4 separate regions of the Homo sapiens genome follow, and regions 1, 2 and 3 are each linked to region 4. The links come from fine-mapping of genetic effects on gene expression. A gene starts in region 4. Each other region holds a variant in brackets. All regions are shown on one strand. Distances are from middle to middle.

Region 1 (8,107 bases), 44 kb after region 4:
TGATACTTGGAAAGTGCCTCTAGGCAGAAAGTTGAGGCAAACTTCTGGCTTATCTAATTCATTTTCCTTCTTGGATATTATCATTCAGTACTGCCTGTGGCCTCATGTCTTTAAAAAGTTAACCTCAGTGTGGAAAATCTGTTTTTCCAGTTTTCTAATTGTTTACAACGGGAGTGTAAGTCTGGTCTGTTTTTCCACCCTGGCTGGAAGTGGAAGTCATGGCCTACCATTTTATTTTCAAACCTTTTTTTTTTTCCTACCCAGAATTAGCCTGAAATGCCTCATCTACGATTACTAATAAGAGAGCCTGTTAATTTTGTTTGAAAAATTTAAAGGAACTAGTTTACAGTTTTTCAACCGTGTTATTAATAAAAATTAAATTTCCCTACTTTATCATAGTCTCCCTTTTTATCGTAGTCTTTTGTCTATAACAGTTAAGGGGCAGGGGGAAGCTAGATGTATTATTAAGTAATTTTTACTTTTCTCATTTTTTTAGACCTAAGGATTGTCTTCGGTCTATTATGAGAAGAGTGAACCACAAAGATCCTCACGTTGCTATGCAGGCTTTGACTGTGAGTGGTTTCATTTTAATCTGTACCACGAAATTACCTGCCACAATTGAGCCCCTTTAACTTCTGATTTTGTGCTTTTAGCTTCTAGGAGCATGTGTATCAAACTGTGGCAAAATTTTTCATTTAGAAGTATGTTCAAGAGATTTTGCTAGTGAAGTAAGCAACGTATTAAATAAGGTAAGGAGCATTATTTCCAGAAATTAATTAAGGCAGTCTTCTTTCTTCACATATTTTATTGTTTAAATCTTCACAGAGGACTATTCTGTGCTTTTTAAGAAATCCTTTCTAGGCTGTGTCTATCCAGTATATAAATAAATATTATGTTTTGTTGAAGAGACTGCGGATTCATGTAACTTTGAGTTAGTTTTTTCAAGCCATATTAGAGTGTTTTTAACCTGTTCTTTTCCATCATACTTTCATCTGATAAGAAAACAGGTATTTCTATATCTAATTAAATAATATCAGTCTATTTTACATACTGTTTTTGTAGGCACAAGGTATTTTCCTAATGGAAAACCTTTCAGAAACACTGCAAAAAGTCTATGGCACCGTTGAGTTTTTATCTTTATCAATAAGGCTGCTTCCTGGCCATCACAGGATTTTAATACTATACTGCTATTCTTACTGGCTGAACCCACAGCTGGAGTTGCCTCAAAAGTGGTGGCGGGGGAGTTTCCACAAGGGACTGCCCCAAACTGTTCCAGATAGGGCCAGATGAGAGTCCAAAAAAAGAGGCACTAAATGCCAGGGTGATCAGTCTAAAGGATTTATTAGGGGAACTTACACAGGAGGGCTGCAGTTTATAGGAGGGTTTAAGGAATTTGGCTCAGGGTTGGGGCTGGTTTCTGTGTGTTTAGCAACATACTTGATCTTTTAGTGTTTTGGGCCACAACCTGAACAACTTTATCAGTGCCTGAGAATGTTCAAGGCCCCAGTTTGGGTCCAAACCTATGGTGGAAAACATGCAGCTGGCTAGGTCACAGAGCGGGACAAGGCACTCTGTTTTTCTATTGGGACACAGAAAGAAAGCAGGGAGAACTGGGGACCCTACAACTGCCCACTCAACTGTAGAATTCTAGTCACACAGTTCAAGAAATTTTTCAATTTTCAATTAGTAATATGTGAGTTTCCCCAGTAAAAATTTGTGCATTCTAAAAGTAATTATTTTTGGCCTTTTTAGGGGGAGTACTGTAAATCAAGAAAAAGTTTTTGTATGTTAAAAGGGAAAATGCCTCATGTTTTTGGGAAAAATGAATAGTTCCAGGTTACAGTAGAAAAATAGCAGTATAGAAATATAGTAAGAATGTAAAATTCTGTACTTTTCGAACATCATGGTTAAATGATAATTCTTTCCCTTTCCTGCTTTATGCAGTTAATATTTATTTTCTACTAATTAATAAACATTGTCTTTTAATGTCCTGAATGTCCATCGAGATTACAACTGTTTATGAAGAGATTCTAATACCATGTTTTTTGTAATGTAGGTGAAAAATGTGGTATACTTACCTATGTATAATAGTGCAAGCAGCCATTTCCAAAAACGACTTCCTATAGGCAAGAGGACTTCTCTTTATTTTCTGAATGTTTTACAGTGAACATATTGGTTTTGTACTTAATAACATCCCGCCTTTTTTTTTTTTTTTTGAGACAGTGTCTCTCTTTGTCACCCAGGCTGGAGTACAGTGGCGTGATCTCAGCTGACTATAGCCTCTGCCTCCCGGGTTCAAGTGATTCTCCTGCCTCAGCCTCCTGAGTAGCTGGGAATACAGGCATGCGCCACCACGCCTGGCTGGTTTTTGTAGTGTTAGCAGAGATGGGGTTTCACCATGGGGATGGTCAGGCCAGTCTCGAACTCCTGACCTTGTGATTGCCCACCTCGGCCTTCCAAAGTGCTGGGATTACAGGCATGAGCCACCGCGCCCAGCCAACATCCTGCCCTTTTAAAAAATTTCCTTTTATTAAACAAATTAAGTTCATGTATAGTCTCAATAAAGCGTTTGCAAATCCATTATATGCTCCTTGACCAAAATACAGATTACATGTGCACTTAGAAAGAATTTTTTTTCTTCTAATAGAGTAATCTAAAAGTCTAACCTTCTCCATTTTTAAAAGCTTTAGCCAATTATTTAGTAAGCATTGGTTTGAAATACATTCATGACATTTCATAGAGGAGTTATTTCTTCTCTGGTATCTGTGAAGGTTTCTTTATATCTATTACATCAAATAGTAAGACTTCAAATTATTGCCGCTATGAAGATACATCAGTATTTTAATGAACTGGCCAGGTTTTTTCCCTTAATAAGCAATGAGTAAAATAATTTATTTTGAAAACTCACTACATTTATCTCTTTCTTTAATACGGAAGAATAATGCCCTGCACACCTGCCTTAGACTAACTTGAATCTTTGTTATACATCAACCATAAAGAGTTATGTTATTTTGGGCTGGGCACGGTGGCTCATGCCTGTAATCGCAGCACTTTGGGAGGCTGAGGCGGGCGAATCAGTTGGGGTCAGGAGTTCAAGACCAGCCTGGCCAACATGGTAAAACCCCGCGTCTGCTAAAAGTACAAAAATTAGCTGGGCATGGTGGTGCGCGCCTGTAATCCTACTCGGGAGGTTGACACAAGAGAATCGCTTGAACCGCATCCCCCACCCCCCTCTGGGAGGCGGAGGTTGCAGTGTGCTGAGATCGAGCCACTGCAGTCCGGCTTCTGCCACAGGGTGAGACTCTGTCTCAAAAAACAAAC[CA/C]AAAAAAAAGAAAAGAAAAGAAAGGAAAAAAAGTTATGTTATTTTGAAGAAATTAAATTTTCAAAATGATTAACATGCAGTGTACCTCAAACTAGGCCCCAGATAATTAAGCATCATGGAAAAAATGCATAGTCATGAACATTAAGAAGTCAGGAATTTGGAATAAAGGAACTGTATCATTTATTCTCTCCTTCCCACTTTTTTATTGCTTTGCAAAAAGCAGACACTTTTCCTTGTCTTACTGATGTACAAACCTTGCTTCGTTGCAAAATATTCTGAAAAGTCCTTTCAGATCTCCAAAATCTTATTACCTATTTAATGCTTTAATTTGAAGTGAGATATATATGATGGGTTTTTTCATAGTGTGAACATTAGTTTTATTTCGAATAACTATATTTTCTTGTCTATAGCTATGCATAACTTGTGATTCAAAAAACATCACTTAATAACTTTACTATTTAAAATGTCTGTATTAAATCATTGGCTAGGAAATTGGTGCTCTTTTATTTCTTTTTCTATTTTACAGGGTCATCCTAAAGTATGTGAAAAATTAAAGGCTCTTATGGTTGAATGGACAGATGAATTTAAGAATGATCCACAGCTTAGTCTAATATCAGCAATGATTAAGAACCTTAAGGAACAAGGAGTTACGTTCCCAGCTATTGGCTCTCAGGTATTTTGGGAATGAAGTTGTGTGTGTGCTACAGTTTGTTTCTCTTAAATAGCTATATTTATTTGAATTTTTTTCTTCATTCCCAGGTAATTTTTACTACTTCAGAGGAATTTTCGTTAGCTAATTGTGTTAGTAACTAGTTGTATTGCTAGTTAGTAATACTAGTTTTCTGGCATTCAGAGGTGCCAGAAAAGTATTATAATGGAATATTAATGTGCTCTAACCTCTCTACTTCTTTATAAACGAATTGGTTTAACATTTTGCAGTTTTTGAAATTTTTTGGTATAGTTTTTGTTTGTTTGTTTTTGAGACGGAGTCTTTGTTTGTCGCCCTGGGTAGAGTGCAGTAGCGTGATCTCGGCTCACTGCCACCTCTGCCTCCTGGGTTCAGGTGATTCTCCTGCCGCAGCCTCCTGAGTAGCTGGGACTACATGCACGTGCAGCCAGACCTGGAAATTTTTTTTTTTTTTAAATAGAGGTGGGTTTCACCATGTTGGCCAGGCTGGTTTCGAACTCCTGACCTCAGGTGTTCTGCCCGCCTCGGCCTCCCAAAGTGCTAGGATTACAGGTGTGAGCCACCAGGCCCAGCCAGTACAGTTTTAATAATATACACAAAATAGCTTTATTAATTAGGTAACACTGTCTTTTTAAATGCTCTTAATGCTATAATTTTCTACAAAGAATGATAGCTCAGAAATCAGGATATCCTTAAAAGTTAGGGATGACTTGAGAGATTCTTTTGTGGAGGAAATTTATGAATTCCTCTATTAACAATGAGAGGACTTTAGAAGGGGTAAATGGGAAGAGAAGCACCTGAAGCATTTTCTCCTTAGTAAGAGCCGACCAGTACATAAGTCTTCCTTTCCCCAGTGGATATGGCTAAATAGCTTAACTTTGCTCTCCTGTCCACCCTTGTGCCAAAAAAATTCAGTCTCTAATTTATGTCATGTAGAAAAAAATCAAGAAATGTCTTTTTTATTCCTATTTCTATTTTGGGTAACCTTCCTTTAGGATGCCCAACTAATCAAGAGGCTTAAAATATGTGCTGATTTACTACACTGTCTTTCCCCAGTTTATTGACTGGGACAGACTGTAATGAGTGATGTGAAACCATGAACAGAAATCTGTGAGTGTGGAGGGGCTTATGTTTTGACCACTTCAGGGAGTCATGTAGCTTATCTACATTCATCCAGACCTACATGTGCTTTCTTCCCAAGGCATTTCCAGTTTATCTGAGCACTCTTGAGATGTGAAGACTCAAAAATGTATCTGGGAGAGGAAGGAAGCAAAGGACATTCTTCTTCTTAAAAAAATTTTGGTTTAAAATTTTCTTAAAAAAATTATGTCTTTGAAAATTCATTCATTCATAACTGATAGCTGGTTTTTACTACTCAGTATAGTTTCTAGAATCTGTATAATTAAGGAAAAATCTTAAACAGAATAATCCAAGACATTATACATTCCTTGACAACAGAAACAATGTTTATTTATCAAAGAGTAGACTCACTGCAGAGAACCCACCTAGAATAGGTAGAGAAAATGCAAGCCCACTAAATATCTAGAGTCTTTGGTTCTTGTTAACTCAAAACTTGGTTTGACCAGCATCACTGGCATTACCTGGAGGCTTGTTAGAAATGCAGCATGGTTGAACCCACTCCAGACCTATGGGTTCATTATCTCCATTTTAACAAGATCTTCAGAGGATTTATATGCACGTTGAGGTCTGAGAAGCACTGCTGCTCTAGAGGACAGCCTTCAGTGCAAGTGAAAACTGCGTTTCAGTCCACAAAGGGACTTACTCTTGTAAGAAAAGGAAGAATTAATGATTGTGCCATATGTACCCTTGTTTGGTTAATCTAGAATCTTAGCCACGGAAACAGTTTTAGGGAGCCTCTAATCTAATCCGCTCATTTTTACAGATGAGGAAACTGAGACTCAGAATGGTTAAGTGACTTGCCCAGGGACACAGCTCATAGTTGACAGCTGGAACTAGAACACAGGCATGCTGATTCTCAGTCCAGTGTTCTTTTCGCTGCCCGAGTCTGCCTTCTTTGTTAGAGAGGTTAGTGAATATGTGTCTGTCTAGACCAGGCTTCCAGTGGAGTGAATGCTGGCAAGAGCATTATGTCTTGATTGGTAGAGAAACTAGCTTATTCTCTTGTTCAAGAAATTCAGGACATAGAAGAGCAATAGTAAAGATAGGACTTAATTTTCATCCTTTGATCTAGATGTTATAAAGTATGTAACAGCTAATCTTGTCATAGTGGCTATATTTCACCTACAAGAAATACATATAAAGTAAAATATGATGAGGTAGAATGATTTTTTTAGTGGTTTCTGAAAAGCTTATTAGAAACCCTACATGTAAAGAGCTTCACATTAAATGAAAAAAATAAATCATCTAAGTTCAACTGCAGAACTCCCTGTAGATTTTAAAGCCACTTAGTTACTTAAGTTATTACTGTGTTTTCATCAGACTAGATTTTTGTTAGGGCATACTTAACAAAAACCTCTGAAGATATATTTTTCTAAGTATATTTTTTTCATCTGAGTACAGAAGAAAATAATGTAAAAATATTAAGAAAAGTGATAAAGTCACCTGACTCATACTGATGCAGTTCTGTTAGCACTAACTTTTGATGTAAAGATAGAAGTAGGCTAGCAGCACCGCTACCGTAGTTGGCTGCTTAATAAGACAAGTGTTATTGTTACATTTAGAACCTGATGATAGAAAGGAACTTTGAATAAAAAGTGCAGTTCAGAAACATGCGGCTTCACATAGCTTATTTCTGCGCTTCTCTACTGGTAGAGATTTCTTCACACACCATAAAAGTTCAAATCTGTCTAATTGTGAAGTTTGCCAAATTGTGAACAAAAATTTATGTAAACCGTAAAACTTATTTCTGACCAGGCATACCTGTAGTTTTCAGAAGTGTCTGATAATTAAAACATTATCTAAAGAAAATTGCAACTAGAGATAGGTCAGAATTGAGAGTGTTTAAAGTTGTATTCTGTGAACACCAAAAAGTTTTTTTCTTCTCAGCTCTTCTAAAAATAAATGCCTGGCCGGGCGCGGTGGCTCACGCCTGTAATCCTAGCACTTTGGGAGGCCGAGGCGGGTGGGTCACGAGGTCAGGAGATCGAGACCATCCTGGCTAACATGGTGAAAACCTGTCTCTACTAAAAATACAAAAAATTAGCCAGGCGTAGTGGCAGGTGCCTGTAGTCCCAGCTACTCAGGAGGCTGAGGCAGGAGAATGGTGTGAACCCGGGAGGCGGAGCTTGCAGTGAGCCAAGATCTCGCCACTGTACTCCAGCCTGGGCGACAGAGCGAGACTCAAATAAATAAATAAATAAATAAATGCCTGTGCATTTGTTTGACAACACGAAATCCAGTTAAGTGAGGAATGTAGAACTGTATTTTATTATAATGTTGAATATTTTTCCTTTCATACCCTCAACAAACATTGATTGATTGCTTGTAATATTTAGGCACATTCCCTCAGGGAACATACAGTCTGGTTGTGGAGACAGACATGTAATCAGACAATTATAACAGAAGCTGAGATTATTGCCTGTTACAATGTTCCAGTCAGTGTTCTAAGTGCTGTACATGTGGCAATTTGAATGTGTTTTAGAATTTCATTTTTAAATTGTTTGCCCTGGGAATGACAATATACATTCATAACTTTTCATGATCTACTTTGAGTTAATATTTGATGTAAAATATAGCAACTTTGCATCTGTAGAGGTCTGTTTACACTGTAGTTGTCATGTGTATTACCTCTACATACGTTATAAGCCCCGGAGGTAATGTTACATACTTTTTGTTTTAAACCCTGAATGAGCCCATCTCATCTGATTTTGGAATCACATGTGTTAATTTAATACTTTAAATAGGCTGTGAGGTGCCCATGAGGTGTAGGTGCTATTATCGTAGTCATTTTATTGATGAGGAATTTGAGGCACCAAGAGGCTAATTTGCCCAGTGTCATCCAGCTAGAAAGTGGTAGATCTGGGATTTGAACTCATGTCTGTCTGACTCCACAACTTACATTCTTAACCACTCATATCGCAGTACCTTGTTTAAAGGTGTTATCATAATAACAAACA
Region 2 (8,107 bases), 72 kb after region 4:
GGGGAATTCTCAGCATCTTAGTACTTCTCTTCACATAGCTAACCTAGTGTCTTACAGTGGAAACGCATGTATTCCGTTGGAAACAGGAAGACAGGAAGTAGAGGCAGTGGATAAAGACAACCCTTTGAAGAATTTTTTTCTTTCTTTTTTTAATGGGAGCAGTGCACAAGTGCAGGGACTTGAGATGGGAGTACTGGCAGCGGAGCGGTGGGAGCGGTAGGGAAGCTCAGTACGTGAGGGGTGCAGCTGCAGAGAGTTGATCAGTGTGGTGTTGGAGCGTGTGCTTCCGTATTTTCAAGGAAATAAAAGAAATGAGGTTATGAGGCCTTCCCTTCCACTAGTCCTTTGGGACCGTTCTTGTCAAGAACCCTGGTGATGCCCATACTGCTAGACTCCCGGTCAGTTCACCATTCTCCTCCTCCTCCATTTGACAGTTCGTGATTCCCTCCTCTTTTCTGAAATGCTTTCTTCACTTGCTGGTGACCATTCTCTTTTCCCTTCTGCCTCACCGCCACTTCTTCTCAGCCTCATTTGCCTCTTGCCTCTTTATCTTCTGGACTTCAAGGTCCAGTGCACAGTAGATGGACTGCCTTTTTCTCTGTTTGCAGCCGCTCCCCAGGGGACCTCATGAAGCCCGGTGATTCTGAATGCCGTGGATCTGCCGAGGATTCCCAGATGCGTATTTCTCCTCCGTACTTCCCCACAGGACAGCAGGCTTGAATAGCTGATTGCCTATGCAGGACAACAGGCTTGAATAGCTGACTGCCTATGCATTCTCTTTGCTTGCCAGTTTTTTGGACATCAAACTTGACAGATCCAAGATTATTACTTTGATCTTCCCCACACCCCTCCCACCCCCGAGTCTACTATGGTCCCATCATAGTATTCTGAAAATCAGTGAATGGCCACTCTACCAGTTATTTCTACCAGTTTTTAGGTTCTAAACCTCAGGCATTCTGGACTCTTCTGTTCATTATCATATTTTGAAGGCATTATCTTCAAAATCTATCTAGACTCTGACCCTTTCTCCCATCTCCACCATTACTGCCGTGGCTCTTCTGCTGGTCGGCTCTCTCCTGGTGGATCGTAATAACCTGCAGTCAGCTATCCTGGTCCAGAGGGAGCCCGTTAAACCCTGTGGAATCTTATCACGCTTCTGCTCAGAACGAGCCAGTGTCTTTCTGTCTCACTCAGAGTGTAAGCTACAGTCCTTATTGTGGCCATCAGGTGCTGTGTGTTCTCCAGCCCCCTCCCCACCACCGCAGTCCTGCCGGTGATCTTAGCTGCTCTCCCCTCGGCACCCCCTGCGGCCCCCTCTGCCGCAGCACTCGTGGCCTGCTGTTCCTTGAACATGCTTGGTGTTTTCTCTCCTCAAAGGCTTCTTTCTGTTTACCTGAAATGTACTTTCCTAGGGAATCTATCTGGCTCACTCGCTTACTTTTTCCACATCTTTGCTTAAGTATTGCCTTATTGGAGAGGCACCCTACCATAAACTAGAATCCCTTGCCCCAGCTGCTCTTTGTCCTCCGTATTGGGCTTTGTTTTTGTTCTTACCAGTTAGAACCACTTGACACACGATACATGTGTTTGTTACCCTTTTCTACCACTAGAACAGACGCTCCATGGTGGTATAGACTTATTTCCGCAAACCACCCCCCCCAACTTTTTTTACACAATGGTTAAATAACACACATATTTTTAATGCAATGCCTGATATCACAAAGCCTAAAATAACAATGTTTGGCACATTATAGCTGTTTAGTAAAAGGTTATTAAATGAATTGACTATATGAATGAATGCTTAGTAAATAGCTTTTCCATTTATCTGTAGTTGCTCTATAAATCAGTATTGATGTAATTGAGTGTTTTTCTTCCTCCACAGTACAATGGTCAGTTCCGTTCAAGGAAACACATATCCCAGCCAGGCGCCAGTATATAGTCCTCCTCCTGCCGCTACTGCTGCTGCTGCAACTGCCGATGTCACTCTGTACCAGAATGCAGGACCTAATATGCCCCAGGTGCCAAACTATAACTTAACATCATCAACTCTGCCTCAGCCCGGAGGCAGCCAACAGCCACCTCAGCCACAGCAACCATATTCTCAGAAGGCTCTGCTATAGGACCCGGTGTTCCTCTTGGTGGCAGATACCTGCTAAATGCCACTGACAATGTTATGAGATTCATTACTATCTTAAGATGTGTTTATCCTCAGCTTATAGGAATCTCTCCAGGTCAACAGGTTCAAATATTCAAGAAGGTAGAACTCTCCTCAATTTACACTGACTTTTTAGAGGTTCTTCCCCCCCCGCCCCTGCAGAGGAATGAAACTACTTACAACATTTAATTCCTTTCATAATATGAAAGAATTGATACAAGGCTATTTGTCTCGTAAACCTGGTCTGCAGAAAGTCAAACTTACAAAAACTGTTGTGACAAATGTTATGTACATATATTGATATGTAACTGCATTAGTGGCCATTTTGAATCACAGTGGTGATCGTGTGAATATATTTAACACTGTGTTAAATTAATTTACGTTGCTATTTTATTTTAATCATAAACAACTACCATGTTTCTTAATGTTTTGTGTAAATTTAAGGTAATTATACTATCCTTTTAAACTTCAAGAAAACAAAGTTGTTAGCGTATTTACATGAAGGCGCATTATGTTGTCGTGTGTTTCAGTTTCACATTAAACTGAACCTTTTACTAATTGTGAGCTAAAGAGATATATATATATATGTGTGTGTATATATATATATCTACATGTCTTTCTGTAGCCTCTGCATACTACTGGCTGTCATCACACCAGCGTACAGTAGCTAAATTTTTGGTGCAATTATAGCAAATGATAATGTTCCCTTTTGAACTTTTACATTTTGGCATGACATTTCAGAGTATTGTGGGACCATGAGACAAAATTAAGTACGATCACATTCTTTATTTCTCATTTTAAAGAAATGATGTTGGTTTACCTTTTCCTAGTTGAAGATAGTAATTAGGTTTCTAAGCTGTATACTGTGTTTATTGGTGGCAGTGACACCAAAGATAGAGGCAATGGATAGAAATTTTTAAACTGGAAAGAAAACCTGAATTACACTACATTTTCGAAGTCTCTTGTAATTATTTGGGATATCAACAAAATTTGATTCGTCTGTCTAATCCCTTGCTAGTATTTTAAATATGTCTTTAACACATTGTATCCTTTAATTCTTCATTAAAATGGAAATAAGTAGATGTTTCAAAGTAATCTACATTCCTGGCTTTGCTTAACGTTTATATAGGTATTGTTTTCTTTCA[C/A]ACTGGATTTTTGGGTTGCTCTTTCTGGCCTTTTAAAATTCTAATGGAATTATTTTGGCTTCTTACTTGGGAATATTTTCAAATGAATGCTTTTCTTTTAATTCATGCGAAAAATGTTTTCCACTGACATTGTAATCTTAAATATTTACGATTTCCCTGGTTGGGCTATACTATTATTTTAGCACTATTTAAACAACGGAAAAGTTGAGTCGAACATCATATTTAATGAATTGATGTAACAGGTTTCATACTATAAATGAAAATTTCATTTTTATTTTCTAAGACTGTTGTAATCAGGTAGCTTGTTTATTTTCTTTTTGAGAGAAGATTAAATCTTTAGCCAGTAATCTTAAGGGTGACTAATTTCACAGACTCAGATTTAAAGCACCGTAGTTTTAAATCTGAGCCTGTGAAATTAGTCACCTGTAAGATTACTTAAGGGTAACTTAAGTGTTTCGCTCAAGTGTTGTGTTCTGATTTCCTGTGTTTAAAATATGTTGCCCTGCCCTGAAGTCAAATTTCACATTTTAAATACTATAAGTTAGTTTTTGATAAATATCTGTCGGATTATAATCTTTTCCACTCCAATTTGAGTATTATGGTTTAACTGATATACTTTTCTGCAATTTTTCTTTGTCTTTTGATAAATTCCTGTTTACCAATGTTAAATGTATCATTTTCCCATTTTAATTTTGATATCTTTCATGCTGAAAATCAATGACATAGTCTCTACTATGATTTTTGCCCTATAAAAGTCAAGTAACAGTGAATAGAAAAAACTACCCTTATTACAACCCATATACATTTTTCTTTACCTTTTACATTACTAGCCTTATAAAGGTTTAAATGATGAGTACTTTAAAACTGTTACTGTGTTAGTTTATGCCTTCCCATTATTAAAAATGAAAATACCAGGGGGAAAAAATCCAATGAAAGTGAAGCACTGGCTTGTCTTTCAAATGACAAGACGAGGGTAGAAATAGGAGGGGGCCAGTTAGGATCATGAATGACTTTAAGTTCTGAAACCTGCAGGTCTTGCACTTTCAAGAAATCTTTCATTAATAGCTGTCCTTATTTTGAAGGAATAGAATAATTTATAAAATGAACTAGCTGTAACATAGGCTGGACGCAGTGGGTCACACCTGTAATCCCAGCACTTTGGGAGGCCGTGGCGGGCGGATCATTTGAGGTCAGGAGTTCGAGACCAGTCTGACCAACATGGTGAAACCCCGTCTTTACAAAACTACAAAAATTAGCTGGGCGTGGTGGCAGGCACCTGGTAATCCCAGCTACTCAGGAGGCTGAGGCGAGAGAATTGCTTGAACCTGGGAGACGGAGGTTGCAGTGAGACGAGATCACGCCACTGCATTCCAGCCTGGGAGACAGAGTGAGAAATAAATAACTGTAATGTAAACTGCTGTGAAGCAAATTCTATTTCTCTTTTTTTAAAAAATAAAATTTGAGATTGGTTTTCCGTAAAATAGTGACACGTAAATGGAAAAAATCTAATCCAGTTACGAACTAGCATATATAGCCAACAGGCCCATGGCCTGTGATGTTATACCAGTGCCCTGAACCTGTAAGAGGATTTCTAATGCATACCTAATGTGACTTTACAGCCTCTTCTAACTCCGTCTTTCTCCTTCACTGTTACCTATCTTCCCTATGCAGCGAGGGAACTTTTTATGTGCCTAAGATTCCTTTTTTCATGTACTTCTGGTGCTTTGTTTCTATACCTCATAGTTTTTGTATTTAAAATGCTTAATAGACCAGTGTCTTTTTTCTCTGATACATACAGCTTTCCTATGCGATATGTATAATTCAGTTTGAAGACATGTTTTTTCCGAAGCTTCAAGTTGATGTGAGACAAATTAGCACCCTACACGATAAACTATGCAACTATAAAAATTATGGAAATTGCCCATGCCTGTGTCCTGAATGGTAATGCCTAGGTTTTCTTCTAAGGTTCTTATGGTTTTAGGTCTAACGTTTAAGTCTTTAATCCATCTTGAATTAATTTTTGTATAAGGTATAAGGAAGGGATCCAGTTTCAGCTTTCTACATATGGCTAGCCAGTTTTCCCGGCACCATTTATTAAATAGGGAATCCTTTCCCCATTGCTTGTTTTTCTCAGGTTTGTCAAAGATCAGATAGTTGTAGATATGCGACATTATTTCTGGGGGCTCTGTTCTGTTCCATTGATCTGTATCTCTGTTTTGGTACCAGTACCATGCTGCTTTGGTTACTGTAGCCTTGTAGTATAGTTTGAAGTCAGGTAGCGTGATGCCTCCAGCTTTGTTCTTTTGGCTTAGTATTGACTTGGCGATGCGGGCTCTTTTTTGGTTCCATATAAACTTTAAAGTAGTTTTTTCCAATTCTGTGAAGAAAGTCATTGGTAGCTTGATGGGGATGGCATTGAATCTATAAATTACCTTGGGCAGTATGGCCATTTTCACGATATTGATTCTTCCTACCCATGAGCTTGGAATGTTCTTCCATTTCTTTGTATCCTCTTTTATTTCCTTGAGCAGTGGTTTGTAGTTCTCCTTGAAGAGGTCCTTCACATCCCTTGTAAGTTGGATTCCTAGGTATTTTATTCTCTTTGAAGCAATTGTGAATGGGAGTTCACTCATGATTTGGCTCTCCGTTTGTCTGTTATTGGTGTATAAGAATGCTTGTAATTTTTGTACACTGATTTTGTATCCTGAGACTTTGCTGAAGTTGCTTATCAGCTTAAGGAGATTTTGGGCTGAGACAATGGGGTTTTCTAGATATACAATCATGCCATCTGCAAACAGGGACAATTTGACTTCTTCTTTTCCTAATTGAATACCCTTTATTTCCTTCTCCTGCCTAATTGCTCTGGCCAGAACTTCCAACACTATGTTGAATAGGAGTGATGAGAGAGGGCATCCCTGTCTTGTGCCTGTTTTCAAAGGGAATGCTTCCAGTTTTTGCCCATTCAGTATGATATTAGCTGTGGGTTTGTCATAGATAGCTCTTATTATTTTGAGATACTTCCCATCGATACCTAATTTATTGAGAGTTTTTAGCATGAAGGGTTGTTGAATTTTGTCAAAGGCCTTTTCTGCATCTATTGAGATAATCATGTGGTTTTTGTCTTTGGTTCTGTTTATATGCTGGATTACATTTATTGATTTGCATATATTGAACCAGCCTTGCATCCCAGGGATGAAGCCCACTTGATCATGGTGGATAAGCTTTTTGATGTGCTGCCGGATTCGGTTTGCCAGTATTTTATTGAGGATTTTTGCATTAATGTTCATCAAGGATATTGGTCTAAAATTCTCTTTTTTTGGTTGTGTCTCTGCCAGTCTTTGGTATCAGGATGATGCTGGCCTCATAAAATGAGTTAGGGAGGATTTCCTCTTTTTCTATTGATTGGAGTAGTTTCAGAAGGAATGGTACCAGTTTCTCCTTGTACCTCGGGTAGAATTCGGCTGTGAATCCATCTGGTCCTGGACTCTTTTTGGTTGGTAAGCTATTGATTATTGCCAGAATTTCAGAGCCTGTTACTGGTTTATTCAGAGATTCAACTTCTTCCTGGTTTAGTCTTGGGAGGGTGTATGTGTTGAGGAATTTATCCATTTCTTCTAGATTTTCTAGTTTATTTGCGTAGAGGTGTTTGTAGTATTCTCTGATGGTAGTTTGTATTTCTGTGGGATTGGTGGTGATATCCCCTTTATCATTTTTTATTGCATCTATTTGATTCTTCTCTCTTTCCTTCTTTATTAGTCTTGCTAGTGGTCTATCAATTTGGTTGATCCATTCAAAAAACCAGCTCCTAGATTCATTAATTTTTTGAAGGGTTTTTTGTGTCTCTATTTCCTTGAGTTCTCCTCTGATTTTAGTTATTTCTTGCCTTCTGCTAGCTTTTGAATGTGTTTGCTCTTGCTTTTCTAGTTCTTTTAATTGTGATGTTAGGGTGTCAATTTTGGATCTTTCCTGCTTTCTCTTGTGGGCTTTTAGTGCTATCAATTTCCCTCTACACACTGGTTTGAATGTGTCCCAGAGATTCTGGTACGTTGTGTCTTTGTTCTCGTTGGTTCCAAAGAACATCTTTATTTCTGCCTTCATTTCGTTATGTACCCAGTAGTCATTCAGGAGCAGGTTGTTCAGTTTCTATGTAGTTGAGCGGTTTTGAGTGAGTTTCTTAATCCTGAGTTCTAGTTTGATTGCACCGTGGTCTGAGAGACAGTTTGTTATAATTTCTGTTCTTTTACATTTGGCGAGGAGAGCTTTACTTCCAAGTATGTGGTCAATTTTGGAATAGGTTTGGTGTGGTGCTGAAAAAAATGTATATTCTGTTGATTTGGGGTGGAGGGTTCTGTAGATGTCTATTAGGTCCGCTTGGTGCAGAGCTGAGTTCAATTCCTGGTTATCCTTGTTAACTTTCTGTCTCGTTGATCTGTCTAATGTTGACAGTGGGGTGTTAAAGTCTCCCATTATTAATGTGTGGGAGTCTAAGTCTCTTTGTAGGTCACTCAGGACTTGCTTTATGAATCTGGGTGCTCCTGTATTGGGTGCATATATATTTAGGATAGTTAGCTCTTCTTGTTGAATTGATCCCTTTACCATTATGTAATGGCCTTCTTTGTCTCTTTTGATCTTTGTTGGTTGAAAGTCTGTTTTATCAGAGACTAGGATTGCAACCCCTGCCTTTTTTTGTTTTCCATTTGCTTGGTAGATCTTCCTCCATCCTTTTATTTTGAGCCTATGTGTGTCTCTGCACGTGAGATGGGTTTCCTGAATACAGCACACTGATGGGTCTTGACTCTTTATCCAA
Region 3 (8,107 bases), 90 kb after region 4:
CTTTCTTCCCCCTTACCAGATCAGAAATGATCCCCACTGAACATGTAAACACATTTAGATTCAAATAATTATTTTATGTGTTTTGCTTAAAATGCTTAAAATCTGTGGGAAATTAAATGCCCTGTAAACCCGGTAAGAAAACACAAAACACATAAAGCCTGTGAGAAATTATATGCCCTACAATCCTGCCTCTCCCAAAAAAACAGGGAAAGAAAAGAAAATTAAGGATAAACATCACTTTTTGAGATAAGTGGTCACAGCCATTATGTCCTTAATTTATTTTTGTTTATTAACTGTTGATGGTTTGGTCTTCATTTGCTTAAGTGTTTACACTATTTTTAAGATACACTAACTGCCTTCTTAAGTTTTACATTTCATAGCACTAAATATGTCAGGCATTTATTTAAATATTTAAGTACCTTTAGAAATCAGAAAACTTGAATCCAGGACTTTTTACAAGTTCATTTTGATATCAACATGTAAACTTACTGAAAAATGAACAATAAGGAAACAGCAATGAGCCCACTCTAGTGTTAAAATTTAATTGTTACACTATGTTAGAAGATCTTTTGCACAAGTCTTCCCTCATTTACGTGTTCCACAAGCTCATTTGTAACATAGTAAGTTCTAGGAAACATTTTAGAACAATGCTGAATTTGGTGACTGGGATGCCGGGCTGGGGTCCAAACCCCATTTAATCTATGATATAACCAGAATGTAGCGTAGTGTTACTGGTATGTCTGGCTCATACCCCGTGAGTGCTTTGTAGGAAGGCACACCAAGTCCAAGGGAGACTGCCAGGGGCACATCTCCTGGTAGCCATCCGTGGGTTCTGAGGCTCCTCCACCTCCCCAGAAGCGGTGGGGCTTCTCATCGCTACCCTCAGAATACCTCGTCTAGGCCAGTATGCTGTCATCCTTTTTTGGGAGTCCCAGAGATAAATCTACCTGCCTTCTTTCCACTTTGACAGCTTTACCTGATCCATGGAAAGACTAAAGACAATTTCTCAGCTCCTCCTGTTCTCTCCCTGAAGCAACTCTTTGTGGTTTTCCAGTGGATTGAAGGCTGAACTGTAACGGATAGAGGCCCTAGGCAGGCTGATTTGATACCTGTTTATCATGATAATCCTTAAATTTGTTTTTTTTTTTTTTTTTTTCTGAGAGGCTACACCTTGTATATCCACCTGAGGAATCCGAAGCCCAACACCCATCCTTAGAGGCAGCTGAGCAACCAGTTACTGGAGCAGGGCCCTTGGTGGGGAGGGGGACAGGGGAAAGGAAGGTGGTCATTTTCCTCGCCTCTAAATGCCTCATTAAACAATCTTTTCATTGTAATGCTCTCCCAGGGTTTCAAAGTCAACGTTCATTTCATTATGATTTCCATTTCCTTATGATTCCATCAGTTTTATGGCATGTTTTATCTTAATTCTGCTGTAGGAAGCACCAAGGTAAACTAGGTAAACGTTTGCCCTGTCTTGCTTTTCATTCTTAACTGGGGGAAGATGCAAATATAGAAAAGAATGAGTATAACTAATCAGGAAAATATATTCTGTTTTCTTCTGGACATTTATGAGTTGGGAAAGATCCTGATGAGAAAAGAGATCTTCTGCTTTCCTGCTTCCCTGTCAAACTGTCCCTTGAGTGAAATAGGAAGCAAGGATAGGTGGGATGGCATGGGGCAGGCTGGGGAAGAGGAACGCCCACTGCCCAGGAGAGGCCTTGGTCCTGGGGGATTCTCCCTGTGTGTGGTCATTTCTTAAAGACTGCAGTGCTGTAGCTCCCCAAAACTTTCAGGAAATAAGATCACTCTGTGTGATTCAAATTGACAAAATAGTAGAGAAGGAACCAAAGTAGGAGATGGGTACCTTAAAGCTGAGGTTAAACTCTGCTGGCTTAGCCAGATCAGTCTGACATGTTTTATTTGGCCTGCAGAGAGTTAAAAAATGTTTTTTGAATAGATGATATTTTATGTCTACGTGATTTCCCACCAAAAATACAGACTTTTGGCTCCTTGAAAAATCCCAGATCTAGGCCGGGCGCGGTGGCTCACGCCTGTAATCCCAGCACTTTAGGAGGCCTAGGTGGGCAGATCACGAGGTCAGGAGATCGAGACCATCCTGGCAAACACGGTGAAACCCCCTCTCTACTAAAACTACAAAAAATTAGCCGGGCATGGTGACTGGCACCTGTAGTCACAGCTACTCGGGAGGCTGAGGCAGGAGAATGGCATGAACCCGGGGGGCGGAGCTTGCAGTGAGCCGAGATAGCGCCACTGCACTCCAGCCTGGGCGACAGAGTGAGACTGTCTCAAAAAAAAGAAAAGAAAAGAAAAGAAAAATCCCAGATCTAACAACGTGAGGCCTGTGTTCCCACAACTATCCATGCTGTCTCCAGTTTGCTACTGAGCCCTCCCAACTGTTGGGGAGAATCAGAGATGGACTCTTATTGAAGCAGTAAAGAGACATTTATTATTATTTTTTTGAGATGGAGTTTCGCTCTTGTTGCCCAGGCTGGAGTGCAATGGCACCATCTCGGCTCACTGCAACTTCTGCCTCCCGGGTTCAAGCGATTCTCCTGCCTGAGCCTCCTGAGTAGCTGGGATTACAGGCATGTGCCACCACGTCCAGCTAATTTTGTATTTTTACTAGAGGTGGGGTTTCTCCATGTTCGACAGGCTGGCCTCAAACTCCCAACCTCAGGTGATCCGCCTGCCTCAGCCTCCCAAAGTGTTGGGATTACAGGCGTGGGCCACTACGCCCGGCCTGAGAGATTTTATACAGAAACTATTGCAATAGGGAAAAGAGACTTGCGTCCAGAACTGGGCTCAGTGGAATACAGTAAAGACAGATGGGGACTTACAGCCAAGGGTGGAGGGGAGTAGTTCATGGTTGGAAAATCACTAAGAGGAGACCTCGGGGATAGAGAGGATTCTTGCTAAGAGCAGGCCAGGGTGATCAGATAGCCAGGGTGGAGGACGAGGGATTTGATGAGATCTCAAGGCAGGAGGGCTTCTCTCTAAACTGACCTAGCAGGATTCTTGCTAAAACTGGGCTGTGCAGGCCTGGCAAGGACGGTGGCCAAGATCGAAGCCTGAGAAGAGGTTTAGGAGGTCAAGGAGATCATCTTGTCACCACTCTTTTGCCTGACCCAGGGGATATTTGAAGCATTGCCTCCTGCTTTAAAGAGAGGGTGGATCTAAGACCTCACTGTTCATTTGGACTGTTGAGCACTTGGAATGGGCTGGTGCAATTGAGGGACTGAATTTTAAATCTGATTTCATTTGAATTAATTTAAACTTAAAAACCAGCAGTGTAAGCTATTTCATAAGCTGTTTTGGTGGGACTATATTTCATGGTAACCATTGCATCCATAGAATAGTATGGTAGTGTATGTATTTTTCACTGTTTTTTAATATGGGTGCTAGAAAATTTAACATTCCACACATGGTTGATGTTCTGTTTCTCCTGGACAGTACTGGACTGTGGCTTCTAGGACCTGGTCATGATTCTAAAGAATGTGTCTGTGGCAGACAGACTCTGGAGTGTGTCCCCATGAGCCCTTCCTTGTGACGTTCAGACCCTTATTTAATTCCCTTTCTTTGAGTATGGGCAGGACATGTGTCTTGCTGAAAACCAATAGACTATGGCAAATGCGATGGGCCATCACTCCTTGCTGACATTACGTCATGCTTTTGCCGGCAGGCTGAGCTTGGAAGCAGACCCTTCCCAAGACGAGCCTCCAGAGGAGAACCCAGCCCTGGCCAACACTTTGATCGCAGCCTTGAAGAGGACTCAGCTAAGCCCTGTCCAGATTCCTGGCCCACAGAAACTGTGAGATAATCAGTGTAGGTGGTTTTAAGCCACTAAATGTGTAGTAATTTGTTATGCAGCAATAGAAAACACGTGGCCCGGAAGGGTTGGGGCACATGGAGAACTATGGAAATCCAGCAAAAGGACGGTGCAGGATGGGAGGAGGGTGAGGACCGAAAAACTACCCATTAGATACTGTGCTCACCACCCAGGTGATGAAATAATGTACACCAAACCCCTGACACAATTTACTCATGTAACAAAACTGCATATGTACTCCCAAACCTAAAATAGTTGGGAGGAAGGCTGGGCATGGTGGCTCACGCCTGGAATCCCAGCAGTTTGGCAGGCCGAAGCGGGAGGATCACCTGAGGCCAGGAGTTCAAGACCAGCTTGGCCAACATGGTGAAACCCCGACACTACTAAAAATACAAAAATTAGCCGGGTGCAGTGGTGCACACCTGTAATCCCAGCTACTCGGGAGGCTAAGGCAGGAGAATCTCTTGAACTC[A/G]GGAGGTGGACGTTGCAGTGAGCCAAGATCACACCACTGTACTCCAGCATGAGTGACAGAGCAAGACTCCATCTCAAAACAAAACAAAAAAATGTTGGGAGGTGATAAAAAGGTAATCTAGCCAAAGGGAAATCTGCTGATGAGAGTGAATCTTAGTTGGTGTCACTTAAGTATCCTGGTCCCGTGAATAAGCTGTTTCTCAGATGCTGACTGATGCGGCTTTGGTGCTGATTAGCTGACTGTCCTTGGTGATGATTACTTTCATCCTACGTTGGTCTGCTTCAGGGAGAGGAAGTTCAGGTCCATCTGATTTTTGAAGGTAGACTCATTGTTTGTGAGAGTTAAGTGGCTGAGTCCAGGCCACTGGGGCATGGTTGAAGTTGGCCTTATCCTACTGCTTGCAGTGTGTTGGTGGTAGTTTTAATTAAATGTGCCATGGAACAGATTGGGCCCCAGCCTCTGTCAGACAGATTAATCATAGTGGCTGACGGATCGGCGTATGCATGGAAAAATTTGCCAAAAACTTAATGATGTAGAAGCGAAAGGTAGAAATGGTTGGGAGATAATCCTCCATAGTTCTTGCACATCTTGCAAGCAGAGAAAATGACAGTGCTTTTTCTAGGCCGTCTTTTCCAGGATATTTGTATGGCACACAACCTTGGGAGATACACATAGCGTCTCCTTCTGGAGCAAGGGACAGGTTTGTTTACATCCTTGGAAGATGGAGTTAGTGTCTCTCTTTAGAGCAAAGCGCAGGCAGGCTGACCGTGATGAAAGACTGAGAGATGGAGCTCAGGGCTCCTGTTTTGTTCTGCAGCTCACTGCCTTTGCCCTTGTCACTTGCCCTTCTTATCTTCCCTGTGCTTGAGGAACTGGCACAGGAAATGATACTCTGGCTCCTGCTAACGCTGTGAGTAGCGTAGTTCTTTGTCTTGGAGCCATGCCTCTGTGCCTTCTGTCAGCATTCCGGGAACTGTGGCCGGCTGACTTTTCAGCTTGCCTTCATAGGTCTTGACAGTTGTGTTGGATAGTAATAATAAAGTCAAAAAGTCGTTTCTTGTGGAACAAAAGTTAATCCACTTATGACTAAACCTTTCCCAGAATAGGGGTGGAAGCCCATGTTTTTTCATTCCCTAGGGTCAGGGGCAGGGATTTTTGTTTTGTCGGATAAAATTATTCCCATTGATTTATAAAATATGTGTATCAACAAGCAGATCTTCCTAGGAGTGAGCTGATCACACCTTTCGCAGCGGCTTACTGAATTCACCTTTTCTAGGCCTCAGTCTTATCTCTAAAATGAGAAAATTGGCTGGCTATGGTGGCTCGTGCCTGTAATCGCAGCACTTTGGGAGGCTGAGGCGGTGGATCGCCTGAGGTCAGGAGTTCAAGACCAGCCTGGCCAATGTGGTGAAACCCTGCCTATACTAAAAAAAAAAAAAAAAAAAAAATACAGAAATTAGCCAGGCATGGTGGTGCGTGCCTATAATCCCAGCTATTCAGGAGGCTGAGGCAGAAGAATTGCTTGAACCTGGGCGGCGAAGGTTGCAGTGAGCCAAGATCATGCCATTGCACTCCAGCCTGGGCAACAAGAGTGAAACTCCATCTCAAAAATAAATAAATAAATAAATATTTAAATAAATAAAATAAAATGAAAAAATTATATCTCTCTTAAAGGCCCTTCCAGCTACAGTGGCTCCAGGTGATGTGAAAAATACCATCCCTTTATTTATTCAACATGCTCTTATCTTGTCCTTACTATGGGACAGGCACCAGTCTAAGTGCTTTTCAAATAACTCATTGAAACTAGGATGATACTAATAACCCCCTGCCATAGGTGAGGAGACTGAGGCACAGAGAGATTAATTATTTGCCCAAGTTCATCCAGCAGGTGGCATAGCTGGGGTACAAACCTAGGCAACCTTTGTGCTTGTGTCCGCCATGGTGTGCTGTCTCCCATCTTGTCACTGAACAATTGATTCAGTCTCTGCTGTGTGGGAAGCCCCTCCTGAGAATGCTGGAGGCCACAGGGGAGAATGAATCAGGTCCTTGTTCTCCAGGGTCTTGCACTAATGGAGAATTTTGTATTTTTCTCTCTCCATGTGTGTGTGCGTGTCCCACAGGAGGACTCCAGATTAAGCATTTGCATGTAAGAATGTCTCATTAGAATGTGGAAGTCTACATTAAGTGTAGGTTAAAGAATTGGTTCCAGGTTTTTAGTTTGCTTATTTAAGATTGTTTAAATAAACCTTAGCGTTCTAACCTGATGGTAGTAAACTAGGTCAGACTTCTGCGGGGAACTATAGAGACATACTTGGTCCAAAGTTCTACCTATTCAATACCTAAGATTAATAAAATTGTGTATAGAAATTTAAGTAGTTATGCTGAATCACATCCCTTAAAAATGGTTTTTGTCAACCCTAATCCCCTTCATGTGTGTAAATTTAAGCTTCTCGCAGAAAATAATGGAATCTTTATTATCTGCTATTACACCAGGAGCAATCATTTTTGCAATATTCACTTTATAAATGTTGAGTGGGTGGCCAGTTCCACTTCACCGTATGCAAGCTGGGTCTCCAGAGCCCTGGAGAATCACACTCAGGAGCTTCAGGGGACAGGCTTTTCTGAAAGAACTACTTACTGAAGGCCAAGGGAACAGACACCCTCAACTGTCACCACCCTGGGCCCAAAGGAGCAAGCGTTCAGCGGCAAGTGTGTACAGTGATTGCTGGGCCTAGGAGGAGGGATGGACTGACAGAGCTGAAACTGGCACAGTGAGTGGGAAAGAGGGACAAGGGAATCAACACCCTCGCTTCTCCTGCTGCCCTTTGGCCTCCTGCCAGTCCTCTCACTGGCCAAACCCAACTCGAATACAGAGTGATGGGGAAATATTGAGGACAGGGAGAGAAGTGGAGGAGAGCCAGCATGCTGGAGACATACTCAATTGAAGCAGGCATTGTCTAGCTCACCACCTGCAAAAACATTAAATTTTTCCTCTGGCAGTTATATTACCATGCCTATTATTTTATGAAAACCCAAAACATGTTCTAGGTTCTTTCGAGTTAATTTGCTGTGTACATTGCTAAGAATTTACATAAAGTACTGAATTTAAATTATCAGTAGGTGGCGCTGCTGAGATTGACTCTTGAAAAATCCAAATTAGCCATTTAACGGAAGATGATCTAGACTTCAGACAGATTATTTGGGAAAAAACATAACGCTGCAGGACAGTTCATTTATGATTCACTGTTTTCTCATGACATCTGGAATGCACCGATTTTTACAATTTTATTTCCTTAATATGTGGACCATTCTGGGTTTTCTCAACAATTAAAGAGCAGGGGCTGATGTTTCTCCGCAGAATTAGAAGGATGGTCATGCTATAGGCCGTATGCTAGACAAGGGGTAGCTGTTGCCTTTATGTCTTAATTTTCTGTTAGAGATTCACATAATGAATTATAATGTGGATCAAGATTTTTAAAATGGTTCAATTTGAATTTTCCGGAGAAGAGAATTAGATGCAGGGAACTTCAGAGCCACGTCTTCTGAAAGCATCAGAAGTGAGCCCCTGAGGGGCCATTTTCCTAGCAACCCTCAAGAAATAGAGTACTGCAGGCCTTTACCAATAGAAATAGGCCCATAAAAATCCGGGAGTTGTGAAATGTTTAACCTGACATATGGATTTTAAAGATGCCCAAGTCCTCTATTTTCCAAACGACATCAGAGGGGTACTTGGTAAAATACAGATTCCCAGGCCTTTTGCCTGCAGATTCTGATTGAGTCAATCTGGG
Region 4 (8,107 bases):
GACCTCATCTAACTCTAATTATCTCCCAAAGATTCTGTCTCCAAATACCATCACATTGGGCATAAGGGCTTCAATATTTGTATTTTTGAGGATACAATTCAGTCCACAGCTGTAGGAAAGGAGAAAAGACAGCAGGAGGTGAATGTAGTAACTTGCCTAAGAGATGAGGGTATAAACTAAAGTAGTGACAATGCAGAGGAAGAGGAAAGACTGAGAAATAGTAATCATTCCTACTTGGGCTGGAATTATTAAACTGTTAAAAACCTTCCTAGGATATTCTTTTTCCTGAATTTGAAAATTATAGACTTTTTCGTGTAGTAACTCTATTTGCACACCAGTTTTTTGTTTTTTGTTTTGTTTTTTTGTTTGTTTTTTTTGTTTTTTGAGACAGAGTCTCTCTCTGTCGCCCAGGCTGGAGTGAAGTGGCCCGATCTCGGCTCACTGCAACCTCCATACCCCAGGTTCAAGCGATTCTCCTGCCTCATCCTCCTGAGTAGCTGGGATTACAGCTGCCCACCACCACGCCCAGCTAAGTTTTTGTATTTTTGGTAGAGACCGAGTTTCGCCATGTTGGCCAGGCTGGTCTCAAACTCCTGACCTCAGATGATCCACCTGCCTCAGCCTCCCAAAGTGCTAGGATTACAGGCATGAGCCACCACACTTGGCCAGTATTTTTGTTTTTAATGTAGATGAATTTTCAAAATCAAACTGAGAATAAAGGGATATAACATTTAACAAACAACCACAGAATTTATTAAACATACAACATTACAGAAACATTTTAATATGCCATTGATATGTAGTCTTCAAAACGTTTTAAAAACTGTGGTAATACTAAAAGTGAAACTCATAGAATTTCAGTATTTTAAAGGGATAATAAGGGACGTTAACCACAAAATACAAAGCATTTCACTTTTTATGTTTGTCTTTTAAGTTAAATATTAAAAATTTTATATTTAAAAAATGTTTATTATTTATACAGCACATTAATCATCGAGACCCCCCTGCCCCCACAGCTAAAGTCATTCTAGGTCAGAATGCACGGATACTGCTCTCAATACTAGTATGTATTACTCCCAGTGCACACATATTGATAATCAAGGCTTGAACAGTTTGTGCCCTGGCTTATTGCTGGCAACAGAGTAATTCAGTCCGGAGTACAGAACATGTACAAATGCATTTTCATCAATATCTGGCTCTGATACACCCAGTCTGAGCCACCAATATCTGGCTCAGGCACTTATGATAATGGCCCAAGACACTGCTCAGGATCTTAAGGTAAACAAGTTGTCACCTAATTCTGTCAGCCCAGCAATCAAAGCACATTTTTGAGAGGGAATGTTCTGACTTCCGTATCAGTCGTGATATTTCCGAATAATTCTATACTTGTCATAATGAAACACAAGCACGCTTTTGGTATTGGCCCTTCAAAACATTAAGAAACTGGTGGTACCAACATACCATTTTTGACATTGTTGTATTTTAACATTTTTTCTGCTTTTGAAAGGAATACACGCTCATCATTAAAATATTTTGAATAATAAAATGCACAAAGAACAAAAACATTGTCTAGAATCTTGCCACTCAGAGACAATCATGTCATAATATTCTCATGTATTTCCTTTCAGATTTTTAAAATTGTGGGCATTTGTAATTTTATAAGGTTTGTAACTTCCTTCTGAAAACTTGTGTATTCAGATGTCTATGTAAATATGAATCTGTATTATGCACCTTAAATGGCTGTGTAGTTTTCACATCTTATGTACTATGATTTAACTGACCAGTGTAAATTACAGTGATCAGTTACACTTATTTAGTGCTTACTCTATGCCAGGCACTGTAATAAGCGTTTTGCTTGTACTAATTCATTTGATCCTCACAACCCTATTATTCCTGTTTCTTACACATGAGGAAACTGAGACACCAAGAGGTGAAGCAATTTGTCCAATCACTCAATGTGGGACATTTAATGGCTGGCAATGCTTTGATCCTTTAGACAATGTTGCCATGTATACCTTTGTTCATGTTTTAAAAGAATGTCTTTAGGATTAATTTGCCGAAATGGAATTGCTGGGTCCTAAGGTTTTAAAAATTTTTTTACATGCTTCCAAATATTTCCCTTAGGAAGATTATACAGTATTTACACTTCATCCAACAGTATGTGAGTGTCTGACTCCTCACATCCCTGATTCTTTGCAATTTTTTTCTTTTTTTGAGACGGAGTTTCGCTCCCGGGTTCAAACGATTCCCAGCCTCAGCCTCCCGAATAGCTGGGATTACAAGCGCGCACCACCACGCCCGGCTAATTTTTTGTACTTTTAGTAGAGACGGGGTTTCACCATGGCCAGGCTGGTCTTGAACTCCTGACCTCAGGTGATCTGCCGGCCTCGGCCTCCCAGAGTGCTGGGATTACAGGCGTGAGCCACCGCGCCCGGCCGATTCTTTGTAATTTTTACCTAAATGACAAAACATTATCTAACTGCTACTTTAATTTGCACATTTCACTTTTAGAGGTGGGACTTCATTTTTAATGAATTTTTAAGCACTCTTTGATTACTATGTATTAATCCTGTGTTGACATGTCAATATTAGTTTCCACGCTACATTTGGAGATGCCGTAATTTGCGGGATAATTTCCATTTACGTACAAGATGTGCTTACTAAGTTTGTTCCAAGTGGGACGCAACATCTCTAGTAGATGCTCCTTAAAACTTCTCCATCACACAGAGAATAATTTTTATTGGTTAACTAAACTTATAAGTAAAATAAATAAACCAACATTTTGGGTTGCTAGGAATCACTCACTGATCAACTTTTAGCTCCAGTTTTTTTCTGTTTTCTTTTTTTTGCTCAGTCTAGGGAGGCTATCTTGGGCTGTGAAAGACATGTCACCAACCATCACAGCTGCTGAGTGATTGCACGGTTAGTCAGTAGGTGCCAACGCCCTGCTAGAAGAGCTGTCTGCAGATTCCAAAGCCGGGCGTTCAGGGACTCCCGGGAAGGAGCCAGCGTTACCTCAGCCTCTCCGAGGGACACGCGCGCCCTGAACACTCCCCTCTTGGGATTCAGGCCAATTCGTTCAGCTCCCATGACTTCATCCGAGCAAGTTTGTCACCTCACGCAGCTAATTAAACTGTTTACCTAGAAGATGATCCAAAGGAATTTCCATTTCCTTCCAGAGGGAATACAAGGTTATGATAACCGAGAGAGCGAGAGGAAAAAAGGCGCACAGCTCGACCCGAACTCAACCTGCTTTCTTTCTCCTGGCTCTCCCAGTCACTCCTGGGGTTGTTAGTAGGCTTCAGCACGCCTGAAGGACCCCGTCCTACGGAGACTCCTAGCCAAGGGAAAAGCAGAAAACACAAGAACTAATTCCACTCTTATGTGTGACTAATTAAAAGAGGAGTCAGGCAGAGGGGACTCCCTGTTCAGCCTTTACCGATGGGGCAGGCTCGGGGCAGCTTTGAGACAGGCAGCGCCAAGGTCGCCCAGATTCCCGACAAGCTCCGCGCGGGGGCTTCCTCGGCTCCTTGCTGTTGCCGCCGCCGCAGCTGCTGCCGCGGTTGGTGGGGTTGGGTGAGAGGAGGAGCTGTCGCGGACCCTGTAGAGTCGGTCTCTGTTGCTCTTTTTGCCTGAGGAGTCTTCCATCCTACGTCGAGCTCTGACTCCCGTGCTGTCGAGAGGGAGTCCCCGGGGACACCTCGGCACGCAGCGGAGATGCCTCTTTTTGCCACCAATCCCTTCGATCAGGATGTTGGTAAGTGTTTTTGCCTCTCCCTGCCCATTCCTCACCGGACTGCACGCTCACTCTGCCAGCCCCTGCCTGCATTCAGGACCCTCGGGCCAGGGCCAAGGAAGAGCTCGCTCTTCCCCTTTCCTGAGGCTCCCTCCTTCAGAGCTGGGAGGAGGTTGAGGGCTTGGCGCATCCTCTTTGAAAGAAATGGGACTCATCCTGTGAAATGGGCCTTGAGCTAGGACTGTAGGTTGCCAAAGAACTGCTGAATGGGTTGGTGTAAAGGGCCTGGGAGGAGCAGCTGGTGTAGCATCTGGTGCAGGGACTGTGCTTCTGGAAGAACAGCGAAGGGCTTAAGGCGTATGTTGGCTAGATTAGGATTGTAAACCCTGTACCAAAAGTGCTTGCCTAGACAAATAAATGTTGAGCGTCTGGAACTGGCAGAATGTTTTAGGTAAGGTTCCTTAGAGGATTTTAAAATCTTTTGTAACGGTAACTGAAGGAGGGAGCTCTGGTTAAGGGTAGACTCTCAAACATGTTAGGAGCGATGAAGATGAAATACTTGGCAACGACTGAAACCGAATTGAGGACCTGAGCCTTTGGGATGTCTCTCTTAGGCTAGGTCTCTGCACTTTAAAAGGTGTAAAGAAGTGTGGAAGAAGTTGTTGAATCTGGAAAGAGTTTGAAATGCTACATTTTTGTTGTTTTCTGAATCACTGGTATTAGGTACTGATGATGTCAATTCAATAGGTTTGCTTTTGGTTTTTAATTTTATTTTATTTTATTTTTTTCTGACTTGAAGATAATAATTATGGGAATTTGAGTTTCCGGGGAGAGAATTTTGGTTTAATTTGAACGCACGTAGGAACTACCTTGGCACACAAGTGTGGAATGAAAGCAAGCCAAATACCATTTCCAAATCCCTTATGGCAGAATGTAATCATTACTGTGAATAAGGACAACCTTATGAATTTACTTGTCTTTGTGTATTTTAATTATGAAAGGTGGATGTTGAATTTTTCTTTTTAAACTCTTCCTTAGAGCATGTCACTGAAACTTGGAAGTTTATATAAGAGTAGAAAAAAGTTCACTCCTTACCTCTGCCACTTCTCAGCTCACGGTGAAATCATAGGCAAGTTAAATTCTTTGAGTTCCAGTGTTCTTGTCTTTAAAGAGGGGAAAACACATCATTCCATTCTGCAGTTAAATAATATGTCTAGAGGGCCTGCTACAGTACCTTTATGTGGTTGGCACTTACTAGATGCTACCTTTTTTGTTCCACCTTAAATGAGTGTCCTGAATCTTAGCAGTGGACAGAACCTTGGAGATCACCGATTATACTTAATGAATTGGAAAATTGCATTTAATTTAATAAGCAGTTAGCACACACTACAGGACACAGCAGCTCAGTGACATAAGAGATACAGTGATGAGCAAGGCCTAGTTGCTGTTCTCAAGCAGTTTTACATCTCACTACATGAATCTCTAGGGGAAATACTTAAAACAGCTTCTTAATACTTGCTTCTTCTGTTTACAGCACCTTTGTCTAGTTTTCTTGGTCCTGTATAATTTAGCTAGCAACTACCCAATCACCTTTATATTCTACTGACTTTGTGAACACATATTTGCATTGGATTCAGGTAAATTTCTTAATGTCAAACCCGTTCCTAGTAGCTGTACCACCCAGTTCAAACACAGGCACCTTCTTGCCTTTATGCTTTTGTCCTACGCTTATGCTTTCTTTTATCTTTCAACATATCCTTGTGTGTTAAGGCCAACTCAGAATCCAACTTGTTACACCTGAGTCATTTCCTGATTACTGTAGCAAAGGGTTTCTCAGTAGCAACGTTATTGACGGTTTGGGCCAGGTAAATATCTTTGTCATAGGAGTTTGTCCTGTGCAATGTAGGGTGTTCAGCCTTATCCCTGGCCTTTATCCACTAGATGCCGGTGACACCCAGCCCCCACTCATGATTTTAGAAGTCTCAGGACATTGCTAAATGCCCCCTGGAAGGACAAAATACCTCCCAGTTGAGAACCGCTGCACTAGTCCACTCTAATTTCCACCTTCTTACAAAATCCTCTAACTTATTTTAGCATTTTTGCCTTTACCGAATTATTTAGCATTCAAGATAGTTTTATACTCCTTAATGAGAGGTTGCTACATAGGAGGTGTTTAATAATGTTTGTTGAGTTGAGAATGTGTCAGTTGAGCCTGCCAGACATTATACTTCTTCAGTGTAGCAACATTGTTTTGCTCCAGAAAAGCTTACTTTTTAAAGTTGCTCAGGTTTTGGTATTGGACCAATTCTCTTCTCACAATCCTTGTATTGAAATATTACAAAAGGTTTATCTAAGAAGACCCCTCAGAGATTCCCAGTACATAAGCCTTGCACAGAGTCCAGTAGACTCATATTATTTTTTAATAGTATAACATATAGAATACAGTGTATAGAATACACTTAACAATTTTTTCTTTCACCATATCTACCAATGAATATGTCATAACATTAAAGTAACTCATTTGATACAGTTATTTATCACTTAACACTCGTATACATTTGCACATCTTCAAAATTAATTGTCTTCAGTCTTAATCTGAGGCTGAATCAGAAATTCACTGACTGATTTATATAATATAACATTTTTTATAAAGAGACACAATGCTGGTGATAGCTTTTCCCTTGGAAGAAACACCGAAAGATGTTACTAGAATGTGAGCTCTGTGAGGACAGGGATTTTTGTTTGATTTTTTCACTGCCGTATCCCTAGCTGTAGACCAGTTTTTGGCATGCTGAAGAACTTTCAGTAAACATTTATGGAATAAATGAATCTCATTTTGGACATTATAATTCAAGAGCTGAATTTAGAAGAAACGTAAAGATAACTTATTTCATCAAGTTTGTATTTCAAAGTCTCTAGTGACTTCCACCTTGCCAAATCCAATGGTCACTTTCTAGTCCATTTCTTTTTTGATCTCTTAAGCATTCCTCTTTGATATACAGTATTTTATTCATGGGATTTCAGGACACCAAACTTTTTCTCATTTTCTACTTAGCTCCTTTTAAATTTTTTTGCTTCCCCTTTTTGCAACTTCTAAAAGTTGAGTGCCCTGCGGCTCAGTTCCGGAGCCTCTTCTCTCCTTCCACTTTTTTTTTTCCCTTAGAGTATTAGGAAGCAATTTAGCTTAGTGTTAAGAATTCAGACTGGGGCCACACTGCTTGGATTCAGTCCCAGGTTTGCTGCTTACCGGTAGTGTGATTTTTGGCCTAGTTGCTTAGATAATCTGTGTCTCAGTTTCCTTATCTTTAATATGGAATATAAGAGTAATAATAGTTCTTACCTCAGAGAGTTGTTAAGAGGGTTGAGTTAATATTTGTAAAGCACTTAGAAAAATTTCTGTACTTTTTATTAAGTAAGATTTTAAAAAGAACCTCATCTAATTTCTTAGCTTTAAATACCTAGCGTATTCTGGTGACTCCTGGATTTATGTTCTTACTCTCAGCCTCTTGCCTGAGCTCTCGACCTAGATATCCATCTCCTTACTGAGCATCTCCATTTGGATTCTGCTTAGAGTCTAAAAACAAACATTCAAAAACTCAATTCTTAGTTCTTTGCCCAAACCTGCTCATTCCTTCATCCTTGCCCTTCTCAGTAGACGACAACATGATTACTGTTTCCTGTCACTGAGCTCCAATGTCTAGGAGTATCACTGATTCTTCTTATTTCTTCACACTTCACATTCATCCTATCAGCAAGATATTTTGGCTGTACTTTAAAAATATATCCAGAATTTCATTGACAGGTGAAACTAGCTGGACTTCCTGGGTCAAGTGGGGACTTGGAGAACTTTTCGGTCTTACAAGGGGATTGTAAAATGCACCGATCAGTGCTCTGTAAAAACGCACCAATCAGTGCTCTGTAGCTAGCTGGAGGTTTGTAAAATGCACCAATCAGTGCTCTGTAGCTAGCTAGAGGTTTGTAAAATGGACCAATTAGCACTCTGTAAAATGAACCAATCAGCAGGACATGGGCGGGGACAAATAAGAGAATAAAAGCTGGGCACCCTAGCCAGCAGCAGCAACCGGCTCGGGTCCCCTTCCATGCTGTGGAAGCTTTGTTCTTTCACTCTGCACAATAAATCTTGGTGCTGCTCACTCTTTGGGTCCGTGCTACCTTTAAGAGCTGTAACACTCACCACAAAGGTCCGTGGCTTCATTCTTGACGTCAGCGAGACCACAAACCCACCAGAGGGAACAAACTCCGGACACATCATCACCTTTTTCTGTCTCACCATTCTTACCTTACTTCAGTCATTGTTATCTCTTATAGTCAGTGGCAAGAGCCTTCTGGTAGGTTTCTTTGTTACCACTC

The links. PIP is the estimated chance that this variant, and not a neighbour inherited with it, causes the effect. A credible set is the group of variants that fine-mapping cannot tell apart.
Region 1: its variant is the best candidate, but not a certain one, in a credible set for the expression of STAM in whole blood (INTERVAL, PIP 0.52).
Region 2: its variant is the best candidate, but not a certain one, in a credible set for the expression of STAM in T cells (TOPMed, PIP 0.57).
Region 3: its variant is the best candidate, but not a certain one, in a credible set for the expression of STAM in lung (TOPMed, PIP 0.63).

What each region holds. Positions count from the first base shown.
Region 1 is chr10:17,684,179-17,692,285 of GRCh38, forward strand. STAM (signal transducing adaptor molecule) reads left to right here. Exons shown (of 14, transcript NM_003473.4): 3 at 497-572; 4 at 654-749; 5 at 3,849-3,995. Among named protein-coding and RNA genes, the nearest start is that of STAM, 44 kb to the left of the region's middle. RefSeq lists an enhancer at 2,645-3,145. The variant CA/C (reference allele first, on the strand shown) is at 3,322.
Region 2 is chr10:17,712,661-17,720,767 of GRCh38, forward strand. It overlaps STAM (signal transducing adaptor molecule), which reads left to right. Exons shown (of 14, transcript NM_003473.4): 14 at 1,883-4,164. The coding sequence ends at 2,120. Among named protein-coding and RNA genes, the nearest start is that of TMEM236, 35 kb to the right of the region's middle. The variant C/A (reference allele first, on the strand shown) is at 3,301.
Region 3 is chr10:17,730,135-17,738,241 of GRCh38, forward strand. No RefSeq gene overlaps it. Among named protein-coding and RNA genes, the nearest start is that of TMEM236, 18 kb to the right of the region's middle. RefSeq lists a silencer at 4,453-4,653. The variant A/G (reference allele first, on the strand shown) is at 4,320.
Region 4 is chr10:17,640,623-17,648,729 of GRCh38, forward strand. It overlaps STAM (signal transducing adaptor molecule), which reads left to right and starts at 3,529. Exons shown (of 14, transcript NM_003473.4): 1 at 3,529-3,757. The coding sequence starts at 3,718. It overlaps STAM-DT (STAM divergent transcript), which reads right to left and starts at 3,296. Exons shown (of 1, transcript NR_110370.1): 1 at 662-3,296. RefSeq lists enhancers at 2,483-3,131, 3,132-3,781, 3,204-3,273, 3,424-3,543.